Regions from separate parts of the Homo sapiens genome. Here regions 1 and 3 are each linked to region 2. The links come from fine-mapping of genetic effects on gene expression. A gene starts in region 2. Each other region holds a variant in brackets. All regions are shown on one strand. Distances are from middle to middle.

Evidence for each region. PIP is the estimated chance that this variant, and not a neighbour inherited with it, causes the effect. A credible set is the group of variants that fine-mapping cannot tell apart.
Region 1: its variant is the best candidate, but not a certain one, in a credible set for the expression of CPLX1 in whole blood (TOPMed, PIP 0.86).
Region 3: its variant is the best candidate, but not a certain one, in a credible set for the expression of CPLX1 in whole blood (TOPMed, PIP 0.50).

Annotation. Positions count from the first base shown.
Region 1 is chr4:759,750-764,749 of GRCh38, forward strand. PCGF3 (polycomb group ring finger 3) reads left to right here. Exons shown (of 11, transcript NM_006315.7): 9 at 1,530-1,667. It overlaps LOC124900163 (chloride intracellular channel protein 6-like), which reads right to left. Exons shown (of 2, transcript XM_047416474.1): 2 at 1-2,991. The coding sequence starts at 298. It overlaps PCGF3-AS1 (PCGF3 antisense RNA 1), which reads right to left. Exons shown (of 3, transcript NR_171661.1): 3 at 694-4,860. Among named protein-coding and RNA genes, the nearest start is that of PCGF3-AS1, 20 kb to the right of the region's middle. The variant G/C (reference allele first, on the strand shown) is at 2,734.
Region 2 is chr4:820,123-830,815 of GRCh38, forward strand. CPLX1 (complexin 1) reads right to left here and starts at 6,007. Exons shown (of 4, transcript NM_006651.4): 1 at 5,924-6,007; 2 at 4,370-4,479. The coding sequence starts at 4,400. RefSeq lists a silencer at 5,977-6,026 and enhancers at 9,835-10,352, 10,353-10,693.
Region 3 is chr4:784,546-789,630 of GRCh38, forward strand. It overlaps CPLX1 (complexin 1), which reads right to left. Exons shown (of 4, transcript NM_006651.4): 4 at 412-2,153. The coding sequence ends at 1,956. It overlaps LOC105374339 (a long non-coding RNA gene), which reads left to right and starts at 3,229. Exons shown (of 4, transcript XR_925032.4): 1 at 3,229-3,321; 2 at 3,418-4,812. RefSeq lists enhancers at 566-1,437, 3,410-3,911, 3,912-4,411, 4,918-5,085. The variant C/T (reference allele first, on the strand shown) is at 2,492.

The DNA of each region.
Region 1 (5,000 bases), 63 kb before region 2:
TCTCCCGAGTTCTTCTCCTTCCGGACTCCGGGTCTTTCTCCCCGCGCGGCCCCTCTCCCGAGTTGTTCTCCTTCCGGACTCCGGGTCTTTCTCCCCGCGCGGCCCCTCTCCCGAGTTGTTCTCCTTCCGGACTCCGGGTCTTTCTCCCCGCGCGGCCCCTCTCCCGAGTTCTTCTCCTTCCGGACTCCGGGTCTTTCTCCCCACGGCCTCTCTCCCGAGTTCTCTCTCCAGACTCCCGGATCTTCTTCCCGCTCACATTGTCCCTCTCCTGTGATGCTTGCAGGCGGCCTCGCTCCATCCCACCCCGGAGCAAGGATGTCTCTTGCTTTTTGCACAGAATCCACTTATCTCCCCAGTGGCTCTTGCGGGGCCTTTAATGGGCTGTGCTCAGTGACTGCACCGTGTCGGAGTGGGTATTTCTTGTATTTTGGATTCTTTTGCTTCCTGAATCTGAGGACTGCCCTTCACTGTTGTGGGAGATCCTTAGTCACTGTTTCTTAACACTTCCTTTCCTTTCTGTTCTTCCCTTTGGGGCTCCCGTCTTCTCCCCTTTCTCTTAGCCTTCCTTTTATTGTTTGAATTGGTGTGTTTATCTCTACTCCTGATGGGTAACTTCCTCAAGTGAATTTTTTTTTAGGACATTAATCTGTCCTCGGCTGAGAAGAATCTGTGGTTCAGCCATCCACTGAGATGTTAGTTTCCGTGAGTGTTTTTATTTTTAGAAATTGTATCTGATTACCTTCAATACTTGCCCGTCTGTACCCCTGGTGTCCTCCCTTTTGTATCTTTTGTAATTTTAGACATACATGTTTCAGTTAACCCCCTGTCCATTCTTCCACTGCATTTTTAGGCCCTAACTGTGCCGTTTGTTGCGGCTCCACCTGTAGAAGCGTTTGCCGTGAGCGTCGCCCTTCCTTGTCAGGCACATCTTGGGGGCCAAGCCGGCCGGGCCCTTGGGTGAAGCCTCGTCCTGGGCAGATTCCTTTTCGCACCGGGCAGGGAGCCCGTGGCTGCTGGGACTCCACAGTCCCCTTAACAGTCACTTTTTATCCTGCGGCCAAACTGCTGGTCACCTGGAAGGCAGCTGTGACCTTCCGCCTGTGGCCCTGCTCAAGGCTTCTCCCTACTGTCTTCCTGCAGTCGCTGCTGTCTCCCCGAGTGCATTCGCAGACACGGGGCCGCCCACTCCCCTTTGCGCCATGTTTGTCCGGACAGGCTTAGCTGGAGACCAAGAACCCAGTGCCTGCGATGGATAAGTAACTGTGGGATTAACTCTCAACTATTATGTTAATAACACAGAATTAACAGGGTGAGGTTATAGTTCACAAAATGGCAAGCAGACGATAAACAGGTTTTCAGATAAGGTATGTAAGATTCTTTTTCTGCAGTGTTGAAGTCAAAGCAGATGTCTGATCTCAAAAAGGTCAGCAGTCCTAGATTGAGGAATTAGTGAAATATGTCTAAGGAAGCCTCCAGAACCGTCCGGGGGAACCCTCCTGCTGCGCTCTCACCAGCGTCCTTTCCCGCAGGTGAGCATCTGCCTGGAGTGTAACAGCAGCAAACTGCGCGGGCTGAAGCGGAAGTGGATCCGCTGCTCAGCCCAGGCGACCGTCTTGCATCTGAAGAAGTTCATCGCCAAAAAACTCAACCTTTCATCCTTTAACGAGGTAACAGTTGATCCCTAAGTAGAAACCATAACAAGTCCTCTCTTATTTCTAAAGGTAACTCCAAGATTCTTTGCTTAGTTTTGTTTTGTTTTTAACAATTTTGGAGATTTTAACCAGAAAAAAATCCGTTTTGCCTGCTTCACCGGGGAGCGGGATAGGAGACAGCCCTAAGGGTTGTAGGATGCCCAGAGACAGGGAACGTGGAATGCTACTGTGAGTGGAAGAGAGAACTAGGGCGGGGATGATGAGACTGTTTTAAAATAGGATAAAGGTTTTCCTCAAAACGAGAAATTCTGTGCTTTAATTTCACAAGGGGAGACATGGGCGGATGCAGAGAGGGAGGACCCTTCCAGGCTGTGGTGTGTAAGGAGACGAAGGAGTGCTGGCATGAGGCGGCCTTGGCAGCGGGCGCACCATGAACATGCCAGTGTGGGTCCCTGTGAGCCCCCAAGGCAGTGACACCATGGGGATGCAGGCGCCAGCAGGGTCCAGCTTTGCATGGAGACAGAAGGCGCTGGCGGCTGTGGGCAGGAGCATGGGTCTGGTGTCGTTTTTGAAAATCGCTCAGGCTGTGCAGAAATGGACGCAGGAGAGGCCAGCGCCAGGAGTTGCAGGAGAGGCGGACTGTGGTGGGGGCGGTCAGGGTGGAGAAGTGGACAGACTTGAGATGCTGTCTGTAGCAGCAGTGGACTCAGTGGTGGCCCCAGAAGATAAGCCACATCCTAACCCCCAGAGCCTGCAAATGGGATCTTGTTTGGAAAAGGATCTTTGTAGATATAATTAAATAAAGGATTTTGGGATGAAATAATTCTGGAATATCTGGGTGGAGCCTAAATCCCATGACACAAGTGAGGCGGAGGAAGACTCGAGACAGGAGGCCCTGGTGAGGACAGAGCAGAGGACGGACTGGAGGCTGGAGGGAGGCAGCCTCGAGGCAAGCCAGGGAGCCCCTGGGCCACCAGCAGCTGGAAGCCAGGGCAGGCTCCCCGGCTGTGGTCCGAAAGCATCCCCCAGATTCATGTTGGAAATTCCATCCCCAGCAGGGCAGTGCTGGGAGTTAGGGCCT[G/C]GGGGAGGCGCTCAGGCCGAGGGCCCTGCCCCATGCACGGATTGATGCTGCTGTGAAAGGACTGGCCAGCATGTGTTCTCACTTCTGATCTTCCCCAACATGAGGATGCAGCAGAAGGCCTTCACAGGTGGCAACGTGGTGACCTTGAATGTCCCAGCTCCCAGAACTGTGCCGAAATCAATTTGTTCTTCATAAATCACCCAGTGTGTGGTGTTCTGTGGCAGCAGCACGGAATGGACTGTGCTTCTCCCCTGGAGCCTGCAGAGGGAGTGTGGCTGTTATGGACTCTGGAACTGAGTACATTTCTATTGTTTGAAGACACCACCTCGTGATAATTTCCACGGCAGCCGCAGGAGACTAATTCAGAGAAAGCCACAATAAGTTGCTGATGTATTTGGGTGGTGATGCAGAGAAAAGGAAGGGGTCAGGAATGACTGCAGGCCTGGGGCTGCTCGGTTTGGGGTGGGGGGTGGTGTCTCGGGACAGGCTGGCGTAGCTGCTGTGGTGGCACAGAGCAGAGGCTGTCAGGTCATGGGGGGCCAATGCCAGCCTTGAGTGTCCCACAGGTTGGCCGGGGATACGGACAGCACACCGGGGTTGGGGAGACTCACTGAGCACGGGCTGCCTGGAGATCATGGAGAAACCAAGTCAGGACACGGGGGGAAGGGAGAGAAGGAAATGGGGCAACGCTTTTTGCTAAGTTTCTATCGTTTTGTTTGCTTTTCTGTGTAGCGAAACAGAAAAGATGGATGGTAGCTGGGGACAGAGCAGGCCGAGGAAGTCCTTGGATTTTCATGTGGAGGTGTAGCGGGAAGCTGCCGGACAGTGGGGCTGCAGGGGGTGGGGAAGAGGTTGGCCATTTCCCAGCGCAGGGCTGGTTCCTCCAGGGAAGAGTGTGAGGTTTGCGCTGCTGCTGCGTTAACCGTGCCTCTGAGCCCCCAACCCAGCCACTCAGGCAGGTGGGGCTGCTTCAATTCATGCCTTCCCCAGGGAGGAATCTGAAGAACTGTCTACATGATCAGGGAAACGCAAGGAAAACTGCGTGGCACCACGCGTACCCCATAGAAGGGCCAGAATCCCAAGCACTGACAACACATTCGGGAAACGCCGGGAGCGCAGGTTCATTCCTGTGGGAAGTGGAACCCGCAGGCCCTGTGGAGAACAGCTTGGCAGCTGCTGACAACACGAAACACACTCTCGGCAAACCACCCAGCAGCCACACCTCGTCATTTACCCACTGGAAATCTCCTGCCCACACAAAAACCTGCACCCGGATGTTGATAGCATCTTTCTTCATAATTACCAAAACCTGGAAGCGACCAAGATGCCCTTCAGTAGATAAGTGGAAAAATAAACCGTGGTGCATCCATACTGGACTATTATCCAGTACTGAAAAGAAATGAGCAGTCGGGCCAAGAGCAGGCACATGGGAGAAACATCAAGTCCCTGTTACTAAGTAGAGAAGCCCCTCTGAAAAGGCTGTAGGCCGTGCGACTCCAGCTCTGCAGCATGGCGCACTGGAAAAGGCAGAACCATCCGGAGGCTGCAGGGGCTTGAGGAGGGTAGTAGGAGTGGGCGGGCACAGGGCTCCTGGGCGGCGATGCTGCTGTTTGTCCACCTGTGGCTGTGCCACCAGGGCGACCTGACATCCGCTCTGGACTCGGTGGAGGTGATGTCAGTGCAGGTTCCTGGGTGGTGACTAATGTGCCCCCATGCAGGGTGTTGGTGGCAGGGGGGTTCCAAGGGGGACGGGAACTCCCTGTACCTTCCTCTCAATTTTGCTGTAAACCTTAAATTGTTCTTTAAAAAGTCTAATTTTTTTAAAAGACTGGGGAGCCTAGTGCATTTTTGCACTATGGTGAGAGGGAGGGACAGCCTGGACCGGAGGTAGGGCCTGTGGGGAGAGGGTGCCCCTGGAGGCTGCAGCCGTGGGAGGGGGCTGGTGTGGACTGGGCCTGGGTGGGATGGGGAGGGAAACACTTCGGCCCTATGGGCCTCTCAGGCACCTGTGCCACCTGGGGAACCAGGGTGCCCGATTCCGGAGCTGTCAGGGCTGCTCATGGGGCTGCAAACCACCTCTTCCCGTTGCTCAGTACGGCAGGTGTGGTAGACAGGGTGTGATGGGGCCTGTCAAGAGAAAAAGGGTTCAGGGCAGCTGCAGGCCAGATAGGGGCGGGATGGGAGCCCACCACTGCAAGGAGCTTGTGCCTGCGCCTGCACCCCCTGCAGAAACGTCATCCCCCTAACTGGCACGGGCCTGCCCTGTA
Region 2 (10,693 bases):
GCTCAGCCCAGCCTGCAGCTCCACCGTCCTCCCGGACCCAGCTCAGCCCAGCCTGCAGCTCCACCGTCCTCCCGGACCCAGCTCAGCCCAGCCTGCAGCTCCACCGTCCTCCCGGACCCAGCTCAGCCCAGCCTGCAGCTCCATCGTCCTCCCAGGTCCAGAGAGCCTGATCAGTGGCCCAATGGGGCAGGAACTGGCAGAATCCCCCATTGCCTCAACCACCAGGAGCCTGTGGGGTCCCTAATAAACAGAGAAGGCTGAGCTTCAAACTGGGCAAGAAGAGAGAGGCAGGAGAGCCAGAGGGACCTCTGTCTGGGACAGGGTGGACACCCAACCTTGCCCATGGTGTAAGTCTCAGGGGTGGACACTGGGAATCAGGGCAGGATTGCCCAGATCCCAGTTGCCTCCATGGCCCTGCCTGAGGTCCCAGATGGTGAGTGCTGAGCCCCACTTTGGTGCCGGGAAGGAGGAAGGAGGTGCCCCCTCCATCCCCGTGGAGGGCTGGGGGAGATGCTGGTGTTGGCTGCATTGTGGCTCAGGGCATCCCTGGCCTGGACTCCTGGCTCTGGTGGTCTCTGCTCACAGAGGGAGATTCTTTCCCAACTGCACCCCTCACCAGCCTCACGTGAACCCCCAAGGTGGACACCCCTCACCAGCCTCACGTGAACCCCCAAGGTGGACACCCCTCACCAGCCTCGCGTGAACCCCCAAGGTGGACACCGGTGGCCCCCACAAGCCCCTTGGGTTGTTCCTGCCGAGAACTCACAGCCCAGCCCCACGGGGGCGCGGAGGGGCTCTCCCACACGGTGGAACCCTGCACTTCCTGCCTGGGCCGTCCACGAGACACTTCTCGTCCACCCCGGCTTGGATGACCACAATCCTCCCCCTCACGCCAAACCCAGGACCGCACCCCTACGGTGTGTTCTCCCCAGATGTTCACCTGCTTCCCTCCCCATGTAGGACTGGACACAGAACCCAACAGCGTACCACTCTCCGGGGACAAGGACAGCTTCTCCACTGAACCCAGGCCAGGCTGTCGCCCCCCAGGTTGGGCCTGGCTGGGTGAGGGGCATTCACTGCCGGACACTGTCCATCGTGACTGAACCACCGGAGTCACTGGACCTGCCCGCTAGACCTCCCCACACGTGGCAGAGCCGAGCATGGGTGAGTCCTGCCTTGGGCTCTGTCGCTGGGGCAGTCAGAGGCTCTCCTGAGTGTCCGGCTGCCTCCCACTCTGCACCCCAGCCTCTCCGCACATGCATCCTCCAAGCCGTGTCCCACCTGAAGCCCCGGCCCGCCTGCCCCACACATTCCCGAGGACCTGAGCGTGTTTAAACAGGGCGTGTGTCACATCAAGGCGGAGGATGGGAGAGCGGGTGGCTGCTCGCTTCTGCCACATTTAGCCCCATGAGGGTCTGCAGTGACCACGGCACCCACACGTGCCACGTTCCTCCACGCTGTCCACAGAGCTCCCAGGCCGTGTTTGCAACTTTCTGGCCTGAGGAAACCAGTTTCTTTAAATTACTCCCTTGAGGACCCTGGATCCGGACCCACGTGTTGTGGGGGGAGGCCCGGCCCCAGTTCAAGGCCACTTTTGCTGCAGAGGAGCCTCCCGCTCCCCCACGAGCGATCACCCCGGCAGCCACCATGCTCCCTTCCCTTGGTGGCCCCAACAGGGGCCCCTCCTTGAGACCCAGCGTTGGGTCAGATGAGCAGGCCCTGGGCCACTCACTCCTCAGCAAGACTCACACCTGCGGCCCAGCCTGCCGCGGACAGCCCCCGAATGGTCTTGATTTAACCAGGCCTGTCCCCCTGCCCAGAGCCCTGGGCAGGTCCTCACCTCTTCCTCCTCTCTGCTGCACCCTCTGACGGGCGTGCACGTGTGCATGTGCCATGCTGCCTGCGCTCCTGGCCCTGACTCCTCTTAGCAGTTCATTTCTAATGCGTCTCTCTCCCCACTGTCTCTCCCTCTGTCTCTGTCTCTCCCTCTGTCTCTGTCTCTCCCTCTCACCACTGTCTCTCCCTCTGTTTCTGATTCTCCGTCTCTCCCCATCTCTGTCTCTCCCTCTGTCTCTGTCTCCATCTCTATCTCTCTAACTCTCTCTGTCTCTCTCTCTCCTTCTGCCTCCACCTCTCCCTCTGCCTCTCTCTGCCCTCTTCCTTTGTCTGTCTGTCTCTCTGTATCCCTCTGTCTCTCCCTCTGCTCCCATCTCTCCCTGTCTCTGTTTCTCCCTGTCTCTGTCTCCCTCTGTCTCTGTGTCTCCCTCTATCTCTGTCTCCGTCTCTCCCTCTTTCTCTCTCTCCCCTCTGCCTCTGTCTCTGACGTGCCGTCTCTGTTTTCACCTGTCTGTCCCTGTGCGTGCTGAATAACACATTCTTGTCTTTTTCTCTGTCTGTTTCTGGGCTGTCATTTTCTTTCTCCAGCTCCCCCTCCCCGACCCTGTTTCTGGGTTCGCCTTTCTTTGAACGGCTTCCTGGGTGCCTCCTGCTCCCTCTCCTGCCAGCTTCTTTGTGTCCGGGGCTTGGTCTGTTTCTCAATAGTTCTCTTGGGGTCTCTGCCAAGCTCTGTCGTGCTGTCTGGAGGTTCCCCCATTTCCCATCTCTGTCTTGCTCTGTCTCACTCACACGCATCCTGAGACAGCAACAATGAGGCTCGCCGGGTGAGGGACAGAGGCGCAGAGGCAGAAAACAAGGTCTCGACTGGAAGCCCCCCACCAGCTCCCGCCCTCAGCAGCTCTGGCTCCGAGCCTCAACGTGCTCTGCAAAGCCAATGTGGGGTGCTCTGGGAAGCACTCAGCGTGGAGCCCCCCCAGGGTCTGCTGGCTGCCCCCGCTCAGCTCCACCACGCTGAGCGACGCCTGCCCGGTTGCTGCTGCTGGAGAAACTTTGGGCTGCCATGAAACAAAAAGGGAATTCAGGCTGGTAATTACCCAGCTAATTTCAGTCATGTAGACAGCCAAATAAGATATTTCAGTTTCTTACAAGCCCACCTCAGGGCCTGAATTAGCCAACTAATTAATTATCCGTAACAGCCTGGGACTCCCTGGGTGGAACGTGCGTCCCTCCCAGCGCAGATGCAGGCTTGTCCCTGAATCACAGCCCGGTGACGCAGCCATTATAATTAGACTCAACCTGACTCTTACCCTTGACCACGAAATCTCAGGGATGTGGCCCCAGGACAGGCTCAATATCTTTTCATTTAATTTGTGTTGAGTGGAAGCACAGCCACCCTCCGGGAGACAGCCAGGCAGGCAGCTCCTGCCCTGGGGGAAGCGGCGCCTGCCCTCTGTACACCCTTGTCCCTGGCCCCTCGAACCCGGCCAGCTCCCCCACTGCAGAAATGCTCCCAGGAGGCCTGACTCACTCCAAGGTGTGAATGGCATCAGGTGAGGGTGCTCCCCCGTGGAGGCCACCCAAGCAAGACGTCTCTAGTGGTAGAATCGGGCACCGGCCACAGGTTCCCCTCACAGGAGTTCTGGGCACTGGTGCTGGGGGAACACAGGATGGACGGCTCTGGGCAAAACTGAGACTCGCCACGACAGCCCCGAGGCCTGAGTTGACCCATCAGCTCTGCCGGGACACGTCTGTACCAGCATGGCCCAGGCCCTGCCCACCTCCTGGTCTAGGAACCCAGCCACTGCTCTTGACATGGTCTCTGGCCACAATGACAGCCTTGGGTCAAGTGGGGACGAGGTTCCTTTCAAATAGCAGACAGCAGGTTGGAAGGGGGCCTGGCCCCACCCCAGTACACACAAAAAAGGCTGCACGTCCCGCCTGGGAGGCAGTCGAGACACACAAGCTGTTTCGGGCCTTTTCCTTCGCTCCCGTAACCAGCAAGCCCTGGTCCCTGAGGATGGCGCTGCCTCACCCAAGTGAAACCCACAGGGTCCTCGCCAGATGCACAGGCCAGCTCTGTCCCCACGCCTGTCCCTGAGGCTGCCACCTGCATCCTGCTCTCCCACCGCTTGGCTCTCCTCATCTGGAAGGAAGCCCCCTTGGGGGCTGCCCAGCCTGGCCAGTTAGAATTGGCCCTGTAAAGCCTACGCCAGAGTGTGCACCCTCCCCCAGGACGTGCATCAGCATGGTCCATGGGCTCTGCCCCGACCACAGCAGTGGGGCAGAGTGAGCTTACAGGGCAGCCCCTGTCCCGCCAGGAACACCAGTTCTGGCTCGGGGCCTCGAAAAGGGCCGGGCTGGGGGCGCTGCTGGGCACGGTCCTTGCTCCTCTGCCCCAGGCTCCTGTGCAGGGCTGCGTGGGTGGCCGTGTGGCTGCAGGGGCGCTGCTGCGGTGGGCCAGATGAGGAGCAGCTGCTGTGGTGGTCTCTCCATGTCCCCTCAGCCCCTCCCCACCCCACCTCCCGCTTCCTACCTCCTAGAGCCTGCTTCATCACAAACTCCATGGCGATTGCTCTGCTTCCACAGTGGCTCCTCCAGGGGTCAGAACTCACACGCAAGTATGGCCGGGAGCGAGTGTTCTTCCTGGGGGAGAGTGAAGTGGTCACAGGTCACCCTAAGCAGGCCCCTGCCTGGCCTTCCCCAGAGACCATCATTCCTTACCCGCAATACCTTGTGGGCTGGACCCTCCCCCACCTGGAGCGGCTGCCTGGGAAGTCCTTCGTGAGGGGCTTCTGTCCCCACACCCAAACCAGGACCCCAGAGGACCTGAAAATGGTCTCCCCAGCTCCTGGGGTGTCTGAAGCCTCTGCAGGGAGGGCTGCTGATGGCTTAGGGGGCATCGCTCAGAGGCGCCTGGCGCCAGGCTGCGGAAGCAGGGGCGGGGCCCAGGGGGCGTTTGAAGGTGACTGCTCCGCTCTGCAGCTCAGTGTCTGGAGCGGCGCCTCCGCGGTGGTCCCGAGCCCAGGGCCGTGGAGAAGGGTTGGGGGTGGGTCTTTGAGCGGGTACCCTTCAGGGCGGGCTCCTGTGGCTTCTGACCAGGGAGGCTTGGGTGACCCTATCCCTGACGGCACTGCAGTCAGTGTGCCCCCCACATGGCCCGCGTAGAAGAGATCGGGGTTGGGGAGAAACTTCAGGGGGCTCAGCCTTCAGGAAACACGTGGGGACGGGGACAGAGCACCCCCGCCCCGGGGGCGTGCATGGGGTGGGGTGGGGCGCTCTGGTCCCCTCTTGGGAAGCCGCTTTCTGAAATCACAGCAGCCGCAGTGAGCCCCCCGGTTTTGCGGGGTCTCTCCTATCGGGGAACCCCAGGTCCCTGGAGAGACACTGTTTGACGGTTCACCCCTCGCCCTCCGCAGAGGAAGGAGACTCGCGCGGGGACTGGGAGGGCGGCGGGCGGGGAGCGCCCCTCGGAGGCTTTGCCGCAGCGCCGATTCTCCTCCAAACTTCTCCCCTGGCTCCCGCGGCGCGGGGAAGGAGGGCACGGCCGGGCCCCGCAGACCCGCAGGGCTCCGGCCCCGCCGCACCCGCACCCCTCGGCTTTGCGGGCGGGCGAGCGGCCCTCAGGCGGGAGCGCGCCAGGAGAGGAAAGAAAGAGGGCGAGGGAGGAGAGGGGGAGCCTCGAGACAGGAAGAAGCGAGGAGGAGGCCGGGCGCGGGCCGGGACCGCGGGGGCCGCTTCAGCACCGCGGCAGTGGACAGCGCCCGCCCCGGACCCCGCGCGCGCGGAGCCCGGGAGAGAAACGGGGGCTGCGGGGAGAAGCCGGGGTCGGGGGGAGAAACGGGGGCCGGAGGGAGAGGCCGGAGCCGGGGGGAGAAGCCGGAGCCGGGGAGGAGAGACCCGGGGAGCGGAGGCCGGGGGGAGGAGCTGGGCGAAGCCGGGGCCGCGGGGAGAAGGGGGGCCGGGAAGGAGAAACCGGGGCCGGCGGGAGAAGCGGGGAGAAGCGGGGGCCGGGGAGGAGACGCCGGGGCCGGGAGGGGAGACCCGGGGAGCGGAGGCCGGGCGCGCGCTGCGCTCGGGGCGCGGTTACCTTCCCGGGGCGCGGGCGGTCAGCGGCGGGGCGCGCTCGGGCCGGCTGGGTCCATGTGGCGCCCGGTGAGCTGCGGCGGCGGCTGAAGGGCACCGCGAGGAGGGCGCGTCACTCGCAGGCGCTCCCCGCCCCCCGCCCGCGTCCGAGCGTGACGAGCACGGGGAGGGGAGCGCCGAGGGGCGGGGCCGCGGGCGCCGGGCGGGGGCGGGGGTGGACCCGGGGGCGGGGGCGGAGGCGGACCCGGGGGCGGGGGGCGGGGGGTGGACCCGGGGCGGGGGCGGGGGGTGGACCCGGGGGCGGGGGCGGGGGGCGGGGGCGGGGGGCGGACCCGGGGCGGGGGCGGGGGGTGGACCCGGGGCGGGGGCGGGGGTGGACCCGGGGGCGGGGGCGGGGGGCGGGGGCGGGGGCGGGGGGTGGACCCGGGGCGGGGGCGGGGGTGGACCCGGGGGCGGGGGCGGGGGTGGACCCGAGTGACGCGCCCCCGCCTCCCTCCAACCCGGCCCGGGCTCGACCTTCCCCCGGCGGGCGCCTGCGACCCCCGCCCGCCCCTGATCTGGGCGCCCCCGGCTCTGCCCCCCCGCCCCCAGCCCGACGGTGCGGGCCTGCTCCCTACAGGGTCCGCGCGGGGCCGGTGGGTGCAAAACCCTCGGGCGGAGAAGTCGCTGCCTCCCGAGCGGAGGGGCCAGGGGTTGGGAGTCGCTGCCGCCCCCATTCTCCGGTGACCGTGTCCCTGAGCGCCGCCCGCCGCCCCGACCCCTCTGCCCCGACCTCCCCGTATCGCAGGGCGGGAGAAGGGGGCCCCCAGACCCCTGAAAACCCACGCAAGCCCCTCGCAGCCAGAGACCCGCAGGCCGGCCCGGGCTCACTTTCGGTGTAACGGAGTCGCTGTTTCCTTTACCGGGACGAAGGCCAGAGACCCCACCGCTCCCTCCCCTGGCCCCCGGGATTTCCTCTGCAGCGGACGCGGCACTGCGGGAGAGCGGGGTCGCCGCAAGGTCGGCCCTGCGGTTCGCGCTGTGCAGTGTCGGGAGCCAGGCGGCGGGAGGGATGGGGCGCACCGCGACCCTAGAGCTGCCCTGTGCTCCTGGCGGGGTGGGGGTGGGGAGGGGGGAGGGGGGCCGCTGCCGGTGGCCGCCGCACTAACTTGTCACTGTCCCCTCCCTGCTGAGTCCTGGGGACTCCCCTGGCGCAGGGAAGATGCGGCCCCTCCCCCGCCCTCAGCCCCATCCCCTCCGGTGCCCCGTGTTTAGCCTGAGCTCAGGAGGACTCAGAGGCCTGGACTCCCAGCCTTGGCCCCAGCGCCTCTGCCCCCGTCCCCACTCTTCTGCTGACTTGGCAGGGGACCCTTCGCAGAGGAAGGGAGCGCTGGGGGAGAGGGAAGGGTGAAGGCACCAGGGCCAAGCCCATGGGGGCTCCCTGAGACAGCCATGAGGGTCCCGTGGGCCTGGGGGTTCACAGGCAACCTCCCAGAGGGGGACCCATGCCCTAGGATTGGGGTCTCTTCAGCCTCCCTGGCTGGAAGCCATGGGCACCCCCAGCACCGTCCCTTCCTCTCTCCCGGGATCTGAGCCAAGTGGGCTCAGAACGTTGGGCCCAGGGACAGGAGGCAGGACACATGCCTGGGGGCCCGGCCTGAGCCCCAGCCTGCTCTGCTCCATCTGCTCCTCTAGTCTCCTCAGGACCTGGGAGGGGACAGCAAGGGTGAGATGTTCGGGTCCAAGAAAGAGGTCACTTCTCGGCCCTGGTGCTTTCTCTCTCCATCCCTAACTGGGTGGATAACCCAACAGCTAACCCGGACAGTAACCCCAGAGAGGACCCCAGGGGTGACCCCCTGAGCCCAGAGCCAGGCTCATGACTGACCCTGCCACCTCCACAAGCTGCATGCAAGGGATATGCTGGTGCCTTTGGGACAGTCTGCACAGGAGTGCAGGGAGGTGCCCGTTCTTCCGAGCAGAAGCACTGGACTCCTAGGCTGACCCCTCCCCGTTCTACAACCCAGGCCAGCCTGAGCTCCAAGCACACCTGGAGCTGGGGCCTGGGGCACAGAGGACAGAGACCCTCTGCCAGCCCTCACGTTCTGCCCTGTCTTCCTCTGCCTCTCTCTCTGTCTCTTTCTCCGTCGCTGTATCTCTCTGTCACTGTGTCTTTCTGCCCGTCTCTCTGTCTCTATCTTTCTGTCTCTGTCTTTCTCTGTCACTGTATCTGTCTCTGTGTCTTTTTGTCTCTCTGTCTCTTTCTATCTCTGTCTCTGTCTTTCTGTCTTTTCTTTCTCTGTCGCTGTATCTCTCTGTCTCTGTGTCTGTCTCTGTCTCTCTGTGTCCGTCTCTCTCTGTCTCTGCCTGTCCCTGTTGTTACTTGTTACATCCAGCCACACATGCAGTGACTGCTTCTCAGCTCTCACACTTGTCTAGGCCCTAACCTGGGGGTGGGGGGGCCCAGCCACAACTTGGGGGAAATAGACAAGGTTGGTGACAGCCCCAGGTCAGAGTGACAAGTGGCCTAGGGAAGGGAAAGTGGGCATCTGCTGGAGGAGTTGAGGGTGGTGCCCACTCAGGGTGTGTGAGCTGGGCCAGGGGAAGGGAAAGTGGGCATCTGCTGGAGGGCTTCAGGGTGGTGCCCACTCAGGGTGTGTGAGCCAGGCCAGGGCTGCCCAGCTGGGATGGGAGTCACAGGCTGCTGGCCAGGAGCCACCCAGGCTCCGTTCCAGTGGCAGAAGGTGGTGACGCGGCAAAAGGCCTCTGCCAACCCCCACGGGCCACTTGGCCACACCAGGGCAGGTGCGGTTGGCCCTTCGAGTGCCCAGAGGAGGCCCTGAGCCCTGGAGAAGAAGCCCCGCAGACCTCCAGCCGGCTGGAAAGGGGCAGGAGCTGAGTGAGAAAGGGGCCAGCAGGTTGAAGGCCAGGTTGAAGATCCAGGCAGGGAAAACATTTTGCAGGCCGGGGAAGAGTTGGAGGCCACCCCGTCCAGGCGGATGTTGGGAGAAGGAGGAGGTGGGGTGTGGAGCAAGTCCGGGAGGAGCAGGATGGAGCTCCAACGAGGGCTCCCCCAGAGGTCAGCTTGGAGAAGTGTGAGTGCTTGGCTGGGCCGAGCCCTGGCTGTGGGGCCTGTGCCAGCCGGTTGGACATGGATGGTACCCCCGGCCCAGCCAGCCCTCTGCTCCTCAGATGCTCCATCCCCAGCCCCAGTGAGGCCAGGGACCCCAGGAGCACAAAGCAGGACTGTGTGAGGACCATGTGGCACTGGGTTTGAGACCCTGCGGGGTCACTCCAGACAGCAGGGAAAGGAGGCAGCTGCCCTGCTGCAACCTCCAGCTCTAGCCTCTCTGGAAGCCCCTGCCAAGGCCTCCACTGCCACCCTGCTCCCATCTTCTGGGTCCCATCTGCCCATAGCCCTCCTGGGTGCCAGGCATCCTCCTTGCCTTGGGCCAGGAAAGGGTCTGGGAAGCACTGTCAGGGTTTCCTGGGGTTGGCCTTCAGTCCTGGCGTGGGGTGTGGCCAGGGGGCCATGTCCCCCATGGGCCCAGCAGGAGGGCAGCGCTCTGCCACACCGCATGTGTGGATCCGGCCCACAGCACCCACCCAGAACCTTCAAACACAAACTTAATAGTTACATGTGCTGAGTGATTCAGTCTGAGTGCCGACACCATCCACGCTGTCATTTTCCTGCTGGATTTTGATATTCCAAAAGTAACAACACGTGAAAAGCGTGAGCAAAGCAAGATGTAGACCCTTGCCGTTTGCCAGAGCTGGGGCAGGACCTGGGCTGAGTGGAGGGTGTCCTCGCCTGGGAAGCGCCCTGAACCCGTTCCCCTCCTCCACTGGGTGAGAGAGGTCCAGCATCTAGCCGGGGGAAGCCAGCGCCTGGGAGGTCAGCCTAGTGGGCCCCTGGGAGCAGAGCAGAGGTACTGCCGCAGCTGAGCGAATGCTTGTGCCCCAGGCCCTGCCCTGGGGTCCTGGGATCCACGGCTGCCCGGTCACACGGTGCCCAGATCTCATGGTGCCCCAGGGCACACATGGGGCCCGCTCTGAGCTGATCTCTTGCGGCCCAGCATGGTCCCAACCATGCAGTCAGCAGCACCAGGTAGCCGGGTCAGCGGCACTCACCCCTGGCTGGAGGGAGCCTCTGAGCTGGGCAAGGCCAGGTCCCGGGCAGCCCACCCGCCAGGCCAGGGCCCTCCAGCTTCAGGGGGAGCCACCGGCTCCAGCCCTGCGCTGAGTGTGGGGTGTGGATCTGGCCTCCTTCAGCCGGGGACCCTGATCCACCAGGGACCCAGGGCAACAAAAGAGCCGCCCGTGGGGAGTGGGCTTGGGGTGGACAAACCCAGAGGCTGTGGAGGAAAGGGGCCTTGCTGTGGGCTGCAGCTGCTCGAGGGACTCCGCCCTCCCAGCCTCAACACCTCAGGGCAGGAAGGAGGGGCTTCAGGGGCCTTCCCGGAGGACAGGGTGAGAGACAGCTCGTCTGGGAGAGGCAGGGCTGGCCCAGGGGTGTGGCTGGCTGGGTGGTGAGCACAGTGGGTGGTGCTGGAATTTGGAGATGGGCAAGAGATCCTGGGAGCTGCCAGTCGTGGGGAGGAGAAGTTTCCCGGGAGGATCCTGGGCCAAACACCTGCACTCCTGGGACCCAGAGCCTCAGATGCTCCTTAGGGTCTTGAGTGCCGTGTGATGGAGCCGGAAGGGGTAGGCGGGGGGCAGAGGGCAGGGAGAGCTGGGTTGAAGCCAGGCTCAGAACGCCGAATGCCCCTTCCCTCCCTCCCTCTCCTCCAGTGACACC
Region 3 (5,085 bases), 38 kb before region 2:
TCCGGGTCCAGGACTCAGGAGGAGGGACAGTCCCACGGGGGTGCTGGGGGGCAGGAATTCCTGGGTGGGCCGAGGTAAGGGCAGCACAGGGTGACCTGGGGCCCTGGGCCCGGTGGAGCTGAGGAGAGGGACAGGCCTGTGGTCGGGGGTCCTAGGTGGGAGGGAGAGCAGAGGGCAGATGCTTTGCGGGTGGAAGAACCACCCTGGGGGGCGGGAGACCCTGAAGGCGCAGGTTTGTGTTTAGATGGAGGTTGCGCTGGCTGGACGGCCTAGGGAAAATGGGTCTGACTGGATGGAGCTGAGTGAGAATGGTGGGAGGCCCTGCAGCCGCCGTGGAGAGAACATGCGCGGGGGAAAGCCCCGGTCCTCCGGCTGGCGAAATGGACCTCTGGAAGGAATGGCCACACGGTGTGAAATCACTGGTGTTTATTGGCTGTGATTCCATCCGGAGAGAACACACGCAGGGGCCCCGACATGCAGGAGGAGGCGCAGGCGCAGGACAGACGGACAGAGGACACCACGGTCTAAGCTAAGCTCGCGGCCCGGGGCGCCATGCGCTGGGAACGGGGTGCGCAGGTTCTACGAGAGGACGCCCTGTCTGCTCAGAGCTGGCTTTGTAAGGTGTGAAAACAGGAGTTTTTAAAAGACACGACCCGGGAGAAGTCAGTGAGAGGGCACAGGGCGAGCAGGACGGACAGCGACGTCCCCGCGGGCCGCGTCGCTGGGGCGCAGAGGGGCGCGGTGGTCTCTGCCCGGAGGGGCGTCGGTCGTTAGTATTGCAGTCTAACGTTATGGCTTCTCTAAAGCTATGTAAGGTCATGAAGGTCAATGCCAAGCCACGCCCTGGCCCGAAACACGTGGAGACTTGATGCATTTTTGATGTGGACGAAAGGGCCCGGGGGCGAGGCGGCGCCTGTCAAGATAAAACTCATTAAATGCAAAGACCTCATTTACCTGAGATTCAACAAATTGTGATGCAAATTAAACATGAATGGAGGAGAAACAGGGGCTCGGATGCCGCCCCGCAGGGCCACCAGGTGGATTAGGCCACACACGCGCCAGCTGCGCGCAGGGAACCCCGCAGGCCCCACCCGAGGAGCTGCCCACGGAGGAGGTGCTGGGCAGGGGCGCAGGGTCTCCAGCGTCCGGTGCCTCGGGCCTCTGCGGCTCCTGTGGAGGGTGCAGTGTTCAATGGCCGAGGGCAGGGGTCCTCCCCAGGGAGAAGCAGCAGCCGCGTGGGCGGAGAGGCTAGGAGGCCGGGCGGGGGGCGAGGACTTGGGAAGAGCGGGGTGACGGGGGTGGGGGCTGGGCGTCCCCCAAACCTATTGCTTTGTTTCCTTTAGTTTAGAAGTGAACACGGCCGTGGCGTTCGTAAGAAGCAAAACCTTCCAGAGAGGAGAGGAAAGGACGCGGACAGAGACGGATGGACAGGGGCGCGAGGGGGCCAGGCCGGGGGGCGGAGAGCGGCCGCGTGCGGACGCAAATACTCACGGCGGAGCGATCCGAACCCCGGAGTCCGCGTGCAGGAGGGGGACCCAGGCCCCGCCGCCCTCGCCCCGCCCGCAGCCCCCCGTCTGCTATGGCTGTGCTCCTGAGTGCGGGCCCGACAGGCGCCCACCGCCGCGAACGCGCGCACAGGGGTGGTCGCGGGGCTGCCCTTCGGCGGCCCTGGCCTCGGGCGCTGCTGGGTGGGCGGTAAACAGCAAGAGAAAGGGGCGTCCCAGGCGATGGGGCTCCAGCCACCCGCGGGCAGAGGAGCACGGGGCGGACTGGGGGGGTCCTGGGGGCGCGCGCCCCTTGCCGGGTGAGGGAGGCGGCGGGCGCGGGCAGGGCGGGCCTGGGGCTATGGCTTATATCGGCGTGGGGGCTGCGCTCTGCTCGTCCCTCAGGGGCCTCCGCGGAGGATCTGTAGGGGGAGGGGCGGGGGCTCCGCGGGGCCGCTGTCCCGCGCGCGGCTACTTCTTGAGCATGTCCTGCAGCGGCCCGGGCAGGTACTTGATGACGGTGTCCAGGATGCTCTCGTCCTCCTCCTCCACCTCGTCCCCGCAGCCCGGCGGGATGGCCTTCTTGGGCCGCGTCAAGCTCCCCTCGGAGTTGGCCTCCATGGCGGCCTGGGCCTCGGCCTCGCGCTCCTCCTTCTTCTTGATGCCGTACTGCGGGGGAGGCGGGGGTCAGGGCGGGGGTCCCGGCGGCTCCCGGGCGGGCCGCAGCCTCCCTGCGCCAGGGACTGGCCCAGGAACCCCCGAAGGCGTGGGTGCGGCCCCCTACCCCACCAGGCACACAAGGACCCCAGAAGGAGAAGAGACCCCACCCCGGGGGGTCCCTGGAGGAATGGGAAGCCCCCACGGAGAATGGGGGCCAGGAGCTGACATGGGGGGGAGCAGGGAGGGGGAGGCTCCCATCTTCCTTGAGAGGAGAGAGGGCTGTGGCCCCACCTCTGGCTCCAAACCCAGCCCAGCCCCTGGCATCCTGCCTTCCAGGAAGCCTCCGG[C/T]CCGGGGCAGGGAGGGGTGGGCAGGATGCTGCGTGGCAGAGGTGGGGAGAAACAGTCAACCCGCAGCTGACCCTCCTGCCCAGTGCCTGGTCCACGACCTGCATTCACACTCCCGGGCCTGGCCAAGGCTGCCTGGATGCGGCCGCGGCCCCAGCAGGGCCACTCCCTGGCAGGCCGCTGCAGCTCCGTGGGCAGCCGGCAGAGGGTCCTGGGCTGCGGTCACTTCCAGGCACTGGGTGTCCTGGAATCCCGCCTAGTCGTGCCCTCAGCCAGTATGCCTGGGCCTCACCGACCCCCTGCCCACCCGCGTTTCTCATCTCCCGTGAGTGCGTCTGCCCTCCGTAGTAGCTGAATATTGTCCCCCTCAAATTCATATTGCCTGGAGCTTCAAAGGTGATCTCATTCGGAAACAGGTCTTTGTTGATCTCATAATGGTAAGGATGGGGACGAGGCCATCCTGGATTTGAGGGGCCTCAAGTCCAGTGAGAGTGTCCTTGTAAGAGACAGAAAGGACAGACACCCGGATGGGGGCGGGCATACGAAAGCGGAGGAGGTCGCGAGTGGTCAAGAAACACCAGGGATTCGGGGCCGCCAGACGCAGGAAGGGGCAGGGAAGGGCCCTCCCCCAGAGCCTCCAGAGGGAGTGTGGGATTTTGTTCTTCTGCCCTCCAGGCCTCTAAGTTTTTGTCAGGCCCCGGGGTTTTGGTTTCTAGATCAATACGCCTCCCCACGCCACACTCCTCCAGCCCTCCCGTGAGCCACCAGCCCAGGAAGCCTGTGGTCATGGTCAGGCCACGGAACTACGGAACAGCCTCCTGCTGCCCAGGAAGGTGGGAACCAGTGGGGTTGGGCTGGCCTGGAAGGATTGGGGGCCTGGTGTTGTACGGAGCTGGACTTCCATCCCCTGAACAGGACCCCCGGGCCAGGTCCAAGGTCCTGGATCTGAGATTACAGGTGCTCTGGAGTAGTGAAGGCGTCAGCAGCTGCGTCCAGGAGAAAACTTAGGAGGGGAGTGGGCACCAGCACTCTACAGGACGGAGGAGCACACCGCGGGATCACCAGCCACAGGGAGGGGCCTTTCTGCCCAGGAGGAGCCCCTCCCCTGCCATCTCCTGCTCCTGTCTCAGCAGCCCCTCCCCATAGAAGCAGTTGGTTCTGCTCCTGGTGCTGGGCACCCCCTGGATCTCCAAGGAGGCCCCTCCTTCCTCCCAAATGGAGGGGGGGCTGCCTGTGTGCTCCCCAACCCCACCGAGGGCAGTCTCGGCACCTCTCCCCTCCCCTAGGGCTGCAGGTGGCTCTGGGTGTGGGGGGCCAGGGCCACCTTCAGTGAGATGGAAAGGAGGGCGCCACGTTCCCAGCCGCCTGTGGCCAGACCACCACCTGGCCACTGAGGAGAGAGGGGCCGTGGGCTCGCCCTAGTCCTCAGCAGCCCCTGCGCACTCTTGACAGAGCCGGGACTCCAGGGGTCTCCTCAGTGAAACGAAGAGCACAGGGTAGGAACGTTCTCCGCACAACAGGGGCGACACCCAGAGGGCCCTGCAGGCCCAGAACAAAGCCCTGACCCTGTGGGGCAGCAAGAGCAGATTGGTTCTCGTCCTAGCCATCCACAGCGGGAAGGGCAGCAGCTCCAGGCACGGAAGTGGAGGGAGCATGTGCTCTTCGTCCTGTGGGGCCAGGGGTGTGCTGGGGAGAGCGATGCCACTGGAAGCTAGGTCCGGCCAGAGAGCCTCCCTCCAGCCAGGGGTGTGGGGGTCTGTGCATGTGGCGGCAACATGTGTATCCAGCCCAGGAGGCTGTGCTGCCCACAGCAAAAGCACTCAGGAACATGTGTGTGCTCAGAGGAGCATGCCTGTAACGGCGGAACATGAGTTGTGTGAGCAAAGGAACCTCCCAGGTCAGGGGAGTGACCCTTGGGGCTTGTGGGACCCTGTCTGCAAACGGTGTGGGATCCTTCCTTCTGGGCCCAGGAAGGAGACCCCAGGCCCTGCCACCAGGTTGTGGGACACTCGGAGCTTGGCCTGAAGTGCCAGTTGCTGCAGTGAGGCTCCAGGTCATTCTGAGGCTGAGGTCACGCCGGACTTGGCCTGAGGGCCAGGGTCACTCTGCCGGGAAAACAGGCTCCGGGGCTGGGCTGCACACCAGAGCCTGGCTTCCACGTGGTCTGGCTGAGACCCAGTTCTGAGGCGTCTGCTCCAGAGACAAACGCCCAGGCACACCCAGCCCCAGGCCCACCGTGATGCTGGGCAGCAGCTCTCCAGGAAGTAACACCTGAGGATGGGAGTGGCTGCTGGGGGCGCCCAGGAGGCCCTGACACGTCTGAGGTGAGACCCTGAACCCTGAAAACACGGTATTCGTGAGAAAAAAGGGCAGTGGGTGCTAATCAATGCTGAGAACCAACAATAGGAATGATAGGACCAAACAGCCAGCATTCAGCAACCAGGTGGACACCTCCTAGCCGCTGTGGGAGCTGCGGGGGGTAGGGGGATGCAATGTATTGAGGGAGCCTAGTGGGCCCTCAGAAGGCCCGTGCAGGAAGGCCCAGGTGTGGGCTGCCCAACATGGGTGGCTGGAAGCTTATGCAGGACAAGGGCGGG